2 separate regions of the Homo sapiens genome follow, and region 2 is linked to region 1. Evidence: fine-mapped QTL for protein levels in blood plasma. Region 1 holds a variant in brackets. A gene starts in the other region. All regions are shown on their reverse strands. Region 1 overlaps SLFN12L (schlafen family member 12 like). Region 2 holds the start of KLRF1 (killer cell lectin like receptor F1).

The links. PIP is the posterior inclusion probability: the model's chance that the variant is causal. Protein levels are from antibody-based Olink assays in UK Biobank. Linkage for the fine-mapping came from a reference panel and not from the study's own genotypes, which makes the PIPs less certain.
Region 2: it holds the start of KLRF1, and the variant in region 1 is fine-mapped to the plasma level of the KLRF1 protein (UK Biobank, PIP 0.98).

The regions. Positions count from the first base shown.
Region 1 is chr17:35,468,081-35,473,473 of GRCh38, reverse strand. SLFN12L (schlafen family member 12 like) reads left to right here. Exons shown (of 5, transcript NM_001363830.2): 5 at 1-5,393. Among named protein-coding and RNA genes, the nearest start is that of SLFN13, 22 kb to the right of the region's middle. The variant C/A (reference allele first, on the strand shown) is at 3,122.
Region 2 is chr12:9,824,959-9,830,351 of GRCh38, reverse strand. It overlaps KLRF1 (killer cell lectin like receptor F1), which reads right to left and starts at 2,871. Exons shown (of 6, transcript NM_016523.3): 1 at 2,723-2,871. The coding sequence starts at 2,807.

The DNA of each region.
Region 1 (5,393 bases):
TCAACAAACACAAATCAATAAATGTAATTCATCACATAAACAGAAACAATGACAAAAACCATATGATTATCTCAATAGATGCAGAAAAAGACTCTGACAAAATTCAACATCCCTTTATGTTAAAAACTCTCAATAAACTGGGTATTGATGAAACATATCTCAAAACAATAAGAGCTATTCATGACAAACCCACAGCCAATATCATACTGAATGGGCAAAACCTGGAAGCATTCCCTTTGAAAATTGGCACAAGACAAGAATGCCCTCTCTCACCACTCCTATTCAACATAGTATTGGAAGTTCCGGCCAGGGCAATCAGGCAAGAGAAAGAAATAAAGGTATTCGAATAGGAAGAGAGGAAGTCAAATTGTCTTTATTTGTAGATGAGATGATTTTATATCTAGAAAATCCCATCATCTCAGCCTCCAAATTCCTTAAGCTGATAAGCAACTTCAGCAAAGTCTCAGGATACAAAATCAATGTGCAAAAGTCACAAGCATTCCATTACACCAACAATAGACAAGCAGAGAGCCAAATCATGAGTGAACTCACATTCACAATCGCTAAAAAGAGAATAAAATACCTAGAAATACAGCTAACAAGGGATGTGAAGGACCTCTTCAAGGAGAACTACAAACCACTGCTCAAGGAAACAAGAGAAGACACAAACAAATGGAAAAACATTCCATCCTCATAAACAGGAAGAATCAATATCATGAAAATGGCCATATTGCCCAAAGTAATTTATAGATTCAATGTTATTCCCATCAAACTACCATTGACATTCTTCACAGAATTTCATATGGAATCAAATCAGAATTAAATGAAATTAAATTTCATATGGAATCAAAGAAGACCTTGTATAGCTAAGATAATCCTAAACAAAAAGAACAAAGCTGGAGGCATTATGCTACCTGACTTCAAACTACACTACATGGCTACAGTAACCAAAACAGCATGGTACTGGCATAAAAAGAGACATATAGACCAATGGAACAGAACAGAGACCTCAGAAATAACACCACACATCTATAACCATCTGATCTTCTACAAACTTGACAAAAACAAGCAATGGGGAAAGGATCTTCTATTCAATAAATGGTGCTGGGAGAACTGGCTAGCCATATGCAGAAAACTGAAACTGGATCCCTTCCTTACACCTTATACAAAAATTAACCCAAGATGGACTAAAGACTCAAACTGAAAACTGAAACTGGATCCCTTCCTTACACTTTATACAAAAATTAACTCAAGATAGATTAAAGACTTAAATGCAAAACTCAAAACCATAAAAACTCTAGAAGAAAACCTAGGCAATACCATTCAGGACATAGGCATGGGCAAAGACTTCATGACAAAAACACCAAAAGCAATTGCAACGAAAGCCAAAGTTGACAAACGGGATCTAATTAAACTAAAGAGCTTCTGTACAGGGAAAGAAACCACCATCAGAGTGAACGGACAACCTACAGAATGGGAGAAAATTTTTGCAATCTACCCATCTGACAAAGGTCTAATACCCAGAATGTACAAGGAACTTAAACAAATTTACAAGGAAAAAACAACCCCATTGAAAAGTGGATAAAGGATATGAATAGACATTTCTCAAAAGAAGACATTTATACAGCCAACAAACGTATGAAAAAAAACTCAACATCACTTATCATTAGAGAAATGCAAATCAAAACCACAATGAGACACCATCTCACACAAGTCAAATGGTGATTATTGAAAAGTCAAGATAAAAGATTATTTAAAACTTTTAAATAATCTTTTATTAAAAGAATATTTAAAACTTTTAAATAATCTTTTATTAAAAGAAAGATTATTAAAAAGTCTCCACTGCACGGCGAGGCTGTGGAGAAATAGGAATGCTTTTACACTGTTGGTGGGAATGTAAATTAGTTCAACCATTGTGGAAGACAGTGTGGCGATTCCTCAAGGATCTAGAACCAGAAATACCATTTGACCCAGGAATCCCATTACTGGGTATATACCCAAAGGAATGTAAATCATTCTACTATAAAGATACATGCAGGCGTGGCGCGGTGGCTCATGCCTGTAATCCCAGCACTTTGGGAGGCTGAGGCGGGTGGATCACCTGAGGCCAGGAGTTTGAGACCAGCCTGGCCAACATGGTGAAACCCCATTTCTACTAAAAATACAAGAATTAGCTGGGAGTGGTGGTAGGCGTCTGTAATCCCAGCTACTTGGGAGGCTGAGACATGAAAATTGCTTGAACCCGGGAGGCAGAGGTTGCAGTGAGCCAAGATCACCCCATTGCACTCCAGCCTGGGTGACAAGAGCAAAACTCTGTCTCAGAAAAAAAAAAAAAAAGACACATGCACACATATGTTTATTGCCCCACTATTTACAATAGCAAAGGCATGGAACCAACCCAAATGCCCATCAGTGATAGACTGGATAAAGAAAATGTGGTACATATACACCATGGAATACTGTGCAGCCATAAAAAGGAATGAGATCATGACCTTTGCAGGGACATGGATGAAGCTGGAAGCCATCATCCTCAGCAAACTAACATGGGAACAGAAAATGAAACACTACATGTTCTCACTCATAAGTGGGAGCTGAACAATGAGAACACATGGACACAGGGAAAGGATTAACACACACCAGGGCCTGTTGTGGGGTGGGGAGAGTGAGGGGAGGGAACTCAGAGGATGGGTCAATAGGTGCAGCAAACCACCATGGCACATGTATACCTATGTAACAAACCTGCACATTCTGCACGTGTATCCCAGAGCTTAAAGTATAATAAAAATTAAAAAAAAAAAAAAGAACTTAAAACAGTGGGAGCATGTTCACACTCTTGGAGTCTTTCCAGCCCTGAACCTCAGGCAGCCTGTATCAGCTGCTGGTGATGGGTGACCTGGGCATGGGGAAGACCACCATCATCAAACAGTGAGTGCACCAGAACTCCTCCTGGCTGGCACCCTGAAGCCACCACTGTGTGAACTGTGCATTCAAGGTGCTACACTGGGACCCAGAGGCCTTGGCACACCTACAGCTGTGGAACATTGCAATGAGGAAAGATTGGGAAAATGACAAGAGCCTGTTATCTGGAACTTACAGGCGCATTTATTGTCTCCAGTATCAC[C/A]AGGCCAGCCCCATTTGAAGCAGAGCTAAAGTGGAAAAATGATTTGGACTAAACGTTAACACATGGCAGACCAATTTCTATGGTTCTGTTGGCCAAGAAATGTGACCATGGGAGGATGAACGCAGGAACAATAGCCTCAAGATGGGCCAGATCTACATGGAACATAGTTTTGCAGTAGGAAAATATAAACTTTGGTGAAACCTTCAGATGCCTGATAAAATATTATATGAAAATGTACTCTTGAAGTTTTGATTTATGGAGGTGACTGAGTGTCAACACAGATGGACTAGCGCCATTGAAAAAAGACTTTATTACTTATAGTTCCAAGAGAAGGGGACTTGCTCTGTCATGCAGGGTCATGTGGTAAAGCATCCAGTTGGTTAAGGAAAGAGGAGCAGAAGTGAGGGGAAAATCTAATTCGGAACCTTTATTATTAGGGTTTCTGTGGGAAAGGTCCAGCTGGGCAGGGGGAACAGCTTAGGACTCAATAGTTTGAATAATTCTGATGGGCTTTGGGGCCTAGGGACGGTCCCCAGTTGTCTGTTACATGGCCCTGGGTTTATGTAGGGTAGGGAAAATATTGGCTCGATGTGTGAGTAGCTTAGAGTATGAGCTCTGGGTCACAGCGGGGATGTAAAGAATGTTGGCCATTAGTTTGGCCCTGTGATTAATGGATGCCAAATAGACAAGTACAGAACCTAGGAAAACACAGTAAGACCCATTGCCCCTGGGCCTATTTGGCATCATCGTAAGAAACCTGGGGTGGTAATAGTGGACTTATTTAAAGGATGGGGTACAGTTGCCCTAAATAGCCTAGAAAATATTTTATTGTAAGAGTAAGATAGAAGAACAATGTGGAAGTATAAAGAGCCCTTGTAGGCTGGTCCATAACTAAGTTCTTCATTTGCATGTCATTAGTCAAGAAAGTAGATCTGAAATTTTTGGAGGTTTTTACTATTATCTTGGTGGAGTTTTAAAGTGGGTTAAAAGTTTGAAATACATATATATATATATTATATATATATTTATATATATAATATATATATATTTTATATATATATATTTTATATAAAACAGGTCCTGCAGTCAGGTTGTTGGGGGATAGGAACTAATACATTAATAATGCATGTGTAGACTAGCGTGTGTGTATAACCAAGGAGGAGTGGTCATGGTCAGAGACACAGGGCAGGAAGTCACGGGGGAAAGCTTGAGGGGGTAGTAGGGGTAGGCACTGGGGAGTTAGTGGTCCTCTTCCCAGTGGGTTGAGGGATTGACTCAGGAGGCAACAGCCTTCAGAGAAAGGCAATACTATCCATTAATTTTTGTTATCTTTTTAGACACAGGGTCTTGCCCTTGTCACCGAGGCTGGAGTGCAGTGGTGTGGTCATAGCTCATTACAGCCTTGACCTCCCGACATCAAGAGATTCTCCTGCCTCAGACTCTTGAGTAGCTGGGACTACAGGTGTACACCACCATGCCCAGCTAACTTTTATATGTTTTGTAGAGATGGGGTCTCCCCATGTTGCCCAGGCTGGTTTGAACTCCTGGGATTAAGCAGTCCTGCCTCAGCCTCCCAAAGTGCTGGAATTATAGGCATGAGTCACTGTGCTTGGCCCTCCATTAATTCTTAGAATGACGTAGGTAGTGGTAACTACTATTAAATTTTCCTTCAGGCATAGGAGTGCGGGGTGTATGTTTTGGCAGAGAGCAAGGAGTATGCCAGGATGATAGGCTAAGCAGACAGCACACTCAGAAACACAATAGAATCCCTGATATCAAAGGAAAAAAGGCCAAATGTTCGGTGTGCAGTTTGTGCCTGAGAAGAGGCAGTCCATGGGTGTCACTGGGGTGAAGGTTTTTGTGTTTAGGGTGACGCCATGTCTGGTGCAGGGGTAAATTCATCTCTGACGGTAAGCTGGATCGATGTCATCTGAGGCAGCATAATCTCCAGCAGTGAGTGCCTATCCAGGAAAATGTCATCTAGGATATGGGTCTTGAGTATTTCTTTTAAGTAAATACAGACTCAGGTTGATGTGGGTCTTAGCATTTGCCATGATTGATTAAAACAATGGCTTGTATGGAGGGTTGGTGCCTCCAGATGATAAAACAACAAAAGCACCCATACCAGCAGTAAGATCAGCAGGCTGAGCATGGCAGCTCATGCCTGTAATCCCAGCACTTTGAGAGGCCAAAGCAGGTGCATTGCTTGAGCTCAGGCATTCAAGACCAGCCTGGGCAACATGGTAAAACCCTGTCTCTACAAAAAACATAA
Region 2 (5,393 bases), not on the chromosome of region 1:
AATGTGAGTGCAGATTTGGTAAAATAAAAGAATCAATTGAAAAACTACCGTTAATTCCAGAAACAAAAAATAGTAGCTGCATTTATAAAAATAACATACTAAAATCAGTGCCCTGTATAATCCAGTAACCACTGTGAAAACATAGATGAAAGAAATTCATTACTCACGGATAGTTAACCAAAAAAAACAAACAAAAAGAAAACTAGACAGAAACTCGACAAGTGTCCCAACCCAATACAAACAAAACAAAACAAAACTAACCGAAAACTGAGTAACATTAATTTGATCATGTGCTTGGATAAGAAAACTATGTGTCAAAAATATAAATTCTCCCTAAGCTTAATGACAGACTAGGAAGTAATTTAGACGTAAAAGCTACATCGGGTTGTTTTATTTGTTGTTGTTTGTGGTGAGTGAGCCTGAATAATTTTTTATAAAGTTATCTGAAAGAACAAAAGAGTGAGAATAGCTAAGTAAACACTGGAAATATAGAAATACAAAATGGTAAATTTTATGAAGGGTGCTGGATTTATGCAAGGTGGATTTCTCTGAAAGTAATTTTTTAAACTTTTTAAATTCTTATTTATTTATTTGAGACAGGGTCTCGCTCTGTTGCTCAGGTTGGAGTGCAGTGGCACCATTAGAGCTCTTTGTAACCTTGAGCTCCTGGGCTCAGAGATCCTCCCTCCTGAGCACCCTGTGTAGCTAGGACTACAGGCATGTGCCACCATGACTGATTAATTTTTTTATCTCTATTGTTTGTAGAGATGGGGGTCTTGATTTGTTGCCCAGGCAGGTCTTGAACTCCTGGCCTCAAGCGATCATCCTGCCTCGGCCTTCCAAAGTGCTGGGATTAATGGCATGAGCCACCACACTTGGCCCCTCATTATATAAGTTTGACTGAAAATATGTAAATGTTTTATGCTACTATAAAGTAAGTTAAACAAAAATGAAAAAAAATCCATAAAAAATGAAGAAAAGGAATCTAACTAGGTATTGTTAGTGTCTTCACTATAGAGAGAGGAATTACTTAAAGTGATTTTAAAACATTTAACTGTGCATGCTCAATGGAATATATCTTAAGGATTTTTTAAAACCGCAAAACATTTTAATCTGTTTTAAGTAACTATTATTATAATATTATTTCTATAGTGATTCTGAAACTACTACATATGTATAGTGGGATAGAGCAATTATGTAATTTCTTACTATCACTGGCAACAAAGGTTTTTCAATATATGAGAAAAGATTTACAAATATGTCATCACAAAATTAAGTTAAATGAATGAACATCATAACCCCAAGGCTCACATTGTCAATCTAATTCACATAAAATACGTCTTACCTCAAGCTTTAATAAATATTAGCTAAAGGTACAAGACATAAATATTAGTATGTGTCACTTAAATATCTGGGAGCCGAAAATCTGCACATTTTTGCTTCAGAGAGACATTTATGAACAGAGTGTGGAAAAAAGTCTGCAGAGAAGTCACTACATGTTGTAGTCTTTCAGGTTTAATATCTCTAATTTCCAAAAATGAAATAAAAATTGAGTGTAGGAAGTAAAGACTTGAAAATATGGGAATCTAAAAATTCACATGGAAGAGGCAATAAATTTCTTATACATAGCACGTATGTAACTCTAAGATGAATCACTGATGGATGATACTTGTGGAAGGACTCAAGAGATAAGTAAAATTTTCATGGGTGAAGTTATTAAAAGAGAAATATTTAGAAAGCAACAGAACAGAACAGACAGTCTCTATAACTGTGATTATTTGTGTCTTTAATTTCTGCTTATCTCTTTTGCCAAATCACATTAAGGTGGCATGATGGAATTGCATTGTGTATGGAGGGTATGCTTGAAGTAGCAAATTAAAATGTTGATTGCTGGTGTATAAACTTTATTTTGAGTCAACTTGGTGAAAAGCATAAAGTTTTTGAGAAGTTGAATTAAAAATTAGTATTAAAGGCTGGGCGCGGTGGCTCATGCCTATAATCCCAACACTTTGGAAGACTCAGGTGGGTGGATCACCTGAGGTCAGGAGTTCAAGACCAGCCTGGCCAACATGGTAAAACCCCATCTCTACTAAAAACGCAAAAAATTAGCCAGGCATGGTGGCGGGCACCTATAATCTCAGCTACTCAGGAGGCTGAGGCAGGAGAATTGCTTGAACCTGGGAGGCAGAGGTTGCAGTGAGCCGAGATCATGCCATTGCACTCCAGCCTGGGCAACAACAGTGAAACTCCGTCTCAAAAAAAAAAAATAGCATTAAAACACCATATTCTATGAATGATAAGGAGGTGAATGGCAGCAAATATTCACTAATTTGAAATTATTAATTTTAATTGAGTATGCATATTTCCTCAGAGAATGTCCTTAAGAAATTATATCAGACAAAATATTACAAGTAAGTGTTAGTTCCACATTGATAAATGGGAGAGAGAGAGATTATCTCATAGTAAATTTGTAAGATTAAATGAAGGAACATAGATAAAACATTCTGTATAGTGCCGGAAACTGGTGTTTCTTAAATGGTAAGAGAGGTTGTTATTTTTAAATCATTATTAATATTGAAAGAGAGGACAGGTGAGAGAGATACAGAGACGGAGAAAGAAAAGCACCCAAATACTGAAACAGTCCAATAACACAATGGAACAGGATACGGGAAACTACCATGTTAATTCACACCAATTGAAAAAATGAAATTAAATTCCATACCTTTAAATGTAAGTTGAGATGTTTGGGCAGAACTCCTTTTCTTTGACTGTACATTCAATGTCATGTATCTTTCTTCATCTTGCATCTTCAATGTGAGTGAATGTGTGTGTATACAGGTATGTTTTGTTTTATTAAGTATAACATGAAATGAGGAAAGAATAATAAATCTGCTGCTAATCAGAGATGCTCCTCAAATTGTCCTTTCACAGTACATATGAGGGTTCACAGTTTCACTTATTTGTGAAAACCTCAGAGGAAATGTTTTCTTTTTAAAAGTTGCTTTCCCATGACATAGATAACACATAATTTCTCAACTGTCCACCACATATTGAATTGAATATTCTTTTGAGTGCTTTACAAATTTCTCTTAATTTACCCTTAAAGTCAAGGGAATGGAAATTATGCCCCTTTTTGAGGTGAGGTTAATAATATATAGCTGCCTTTTGTTATAGCCTAAATATTTATATCATTTGAATTAGCCTCCCTAACATATTGATATTTAATTTAATAATTTGCAATTGCCAAGCAATTAAATTCTTTATCCTAAAACAATATTGTTTATAAATCATGCTAATAATTTAACAGTATAATTTGATTTTTTTTAACTTTTAGGTTCAGGGCTACATGTGTAGGTTTGTTATATAGGTAAAATCATGTCACAGGGGTTTGTTGTACATATTATTTCATCACCCAGGTATTCAGACTAGTACTACATAGTTATGTTTTTCTGATCCTGCCCCTCCTCTCACCCTCCACCTTCAAGTAGGCTCCGGTGTCTGTCATTCTCCTCTATGTGTACATGTGTTCTCATCATTTAGATCCCAATTATTAGTGAGAACATGTGGTATTTGGTTTTCTGTTCCTCCATTAGTTTGTTAAGGGTAACGGCCTCTAGCTTCATCTATGTTCCTGCAATGGACATCATCTCATTCTTTTTTATAGCTGCATAGTATTCCTTTGTATATGTGTATCACATTTTCTTTATCCAGTCTACCATTGATGGGCATTTAGGTTGATTGCATGTCTTTGCTATTGTCAACAGTGCTGCCATGAACAGATGCATGCATGTGTCTTTATGATAGATTTATATTCCTTTGGGTATATACCAGTAATGGGATTGCTGGGTCAAATTTCTGGTTTTAGGTCTTTAAGGAATCACCATGCTATCTTTCATAATGGTTGAACTAATTTACACTCCCATCAAAGGTGTATAAGTGAACCCTTTTCTCCACTACCTCATCAGCATCTGTTATTTTTTGACTTTTTAATAATAGCCATTCGACTGGTATGAGATGGTATCTTACTGTGGTTTTAATTTGCATTTCCCTAATGATTAGTGCCTACTGGAGGATAGAGGGTGGGAAGAGGGAAAGGATCAGGAAAAATAACTAATGGGTACTAGGGTTAATACCTGGGTGAAGAAATAATCTTTACAGCAAACCCCCATTACACAAGTTTACCTATGTAACAAATTTGCACATGTACTCCCAAATTTAAAATAAAATTTTAAAAACACAATATACCCTTTTAAATAAGATAAACTATTAATTCAAGGAGAAAATATTTGACAAATTATCAGAAATATATTTGTTGCTTAATGACAAAAGTAAAAGGATAATACATTTTTGTGTTATTTTTGTTTATTTTTACTTGCTAAATTTTGTTCTTTAATTTATAATTACAATTTCTTTGGCCATTATTTGACACTCCAAATGGATAAGAAGTAAATTAAGATTGATAAATAAAACACGAAAAGTATCTGTTCATGTCCTTAGTCCACTTTTTAATGGGGTTGTTTATTTTTTGCTTGTTGATTGGTTTAAGTTTCTTACAGATGCTGGATATTAGACCTTTGTCAAATGCATAGTCTGCAAAAATTTTCTCCCATTCTGTAGATTATCTGTTCACTCTGTTGATAGTTTCTCTTGCTGTGCAGAAGCTCTTACAGTTAATTATTTTGTTTGTTTGTTTTGTTTTGTTTCACTTTTGTTGCAATTGCTTTTGGCATCTTTGTCATGAAATATTTGCCCATTCCTGTGTCCAGGATGGTAATTCCTAGGTTATCTTCCAGGGTTTTTTATATTTTGGGGTTTTAGACATAAGTATTTTATCCATCTTGAGTTGAGCTTTGTATATGGTATAAGGAAGGGGTCCACTTTCAATCTTCAGCATGTGGCTAGCCAGTTATCTCAGCACCATTTATTAAAAAGGGAATCCTTTTCCCATGGCTTGTTTTTGTCAGCTTTGCTGAAGATCAGATGGGTGTAGTTGTGCAGCACTATTTCTGGGCTTTCTGTCCAGTGGTCTATGTGTCTGCATTAGACCATTGTGTTCCAATGGTCTATGTGTCTGCTTTTTTTTTTTTTTTTACCAGTACCTTGTTATTTTGGATATTGTAGTACTGTAGTATAATTTGAAGTTGGGCAATGTGATGCCTCCAGTGTTGTTCTTTTTGCTTAGGATTGCCTTGGCTATTTGGGCTAATTTTTCTGTTCCAGATGAATTTTAAAATAGTTTTCTTCTAGTTCTGTGAAGAATGTCATTGGTAGTATGATAGGAATAGCATTAAATCTGTAAATTGCTTTGGGCAATATGACCATTTTAATGATATTTATTATTCTGATCCATGAGCATGGAATGTTTTTCATTTGTTTGTGTCATCTCTGATTTC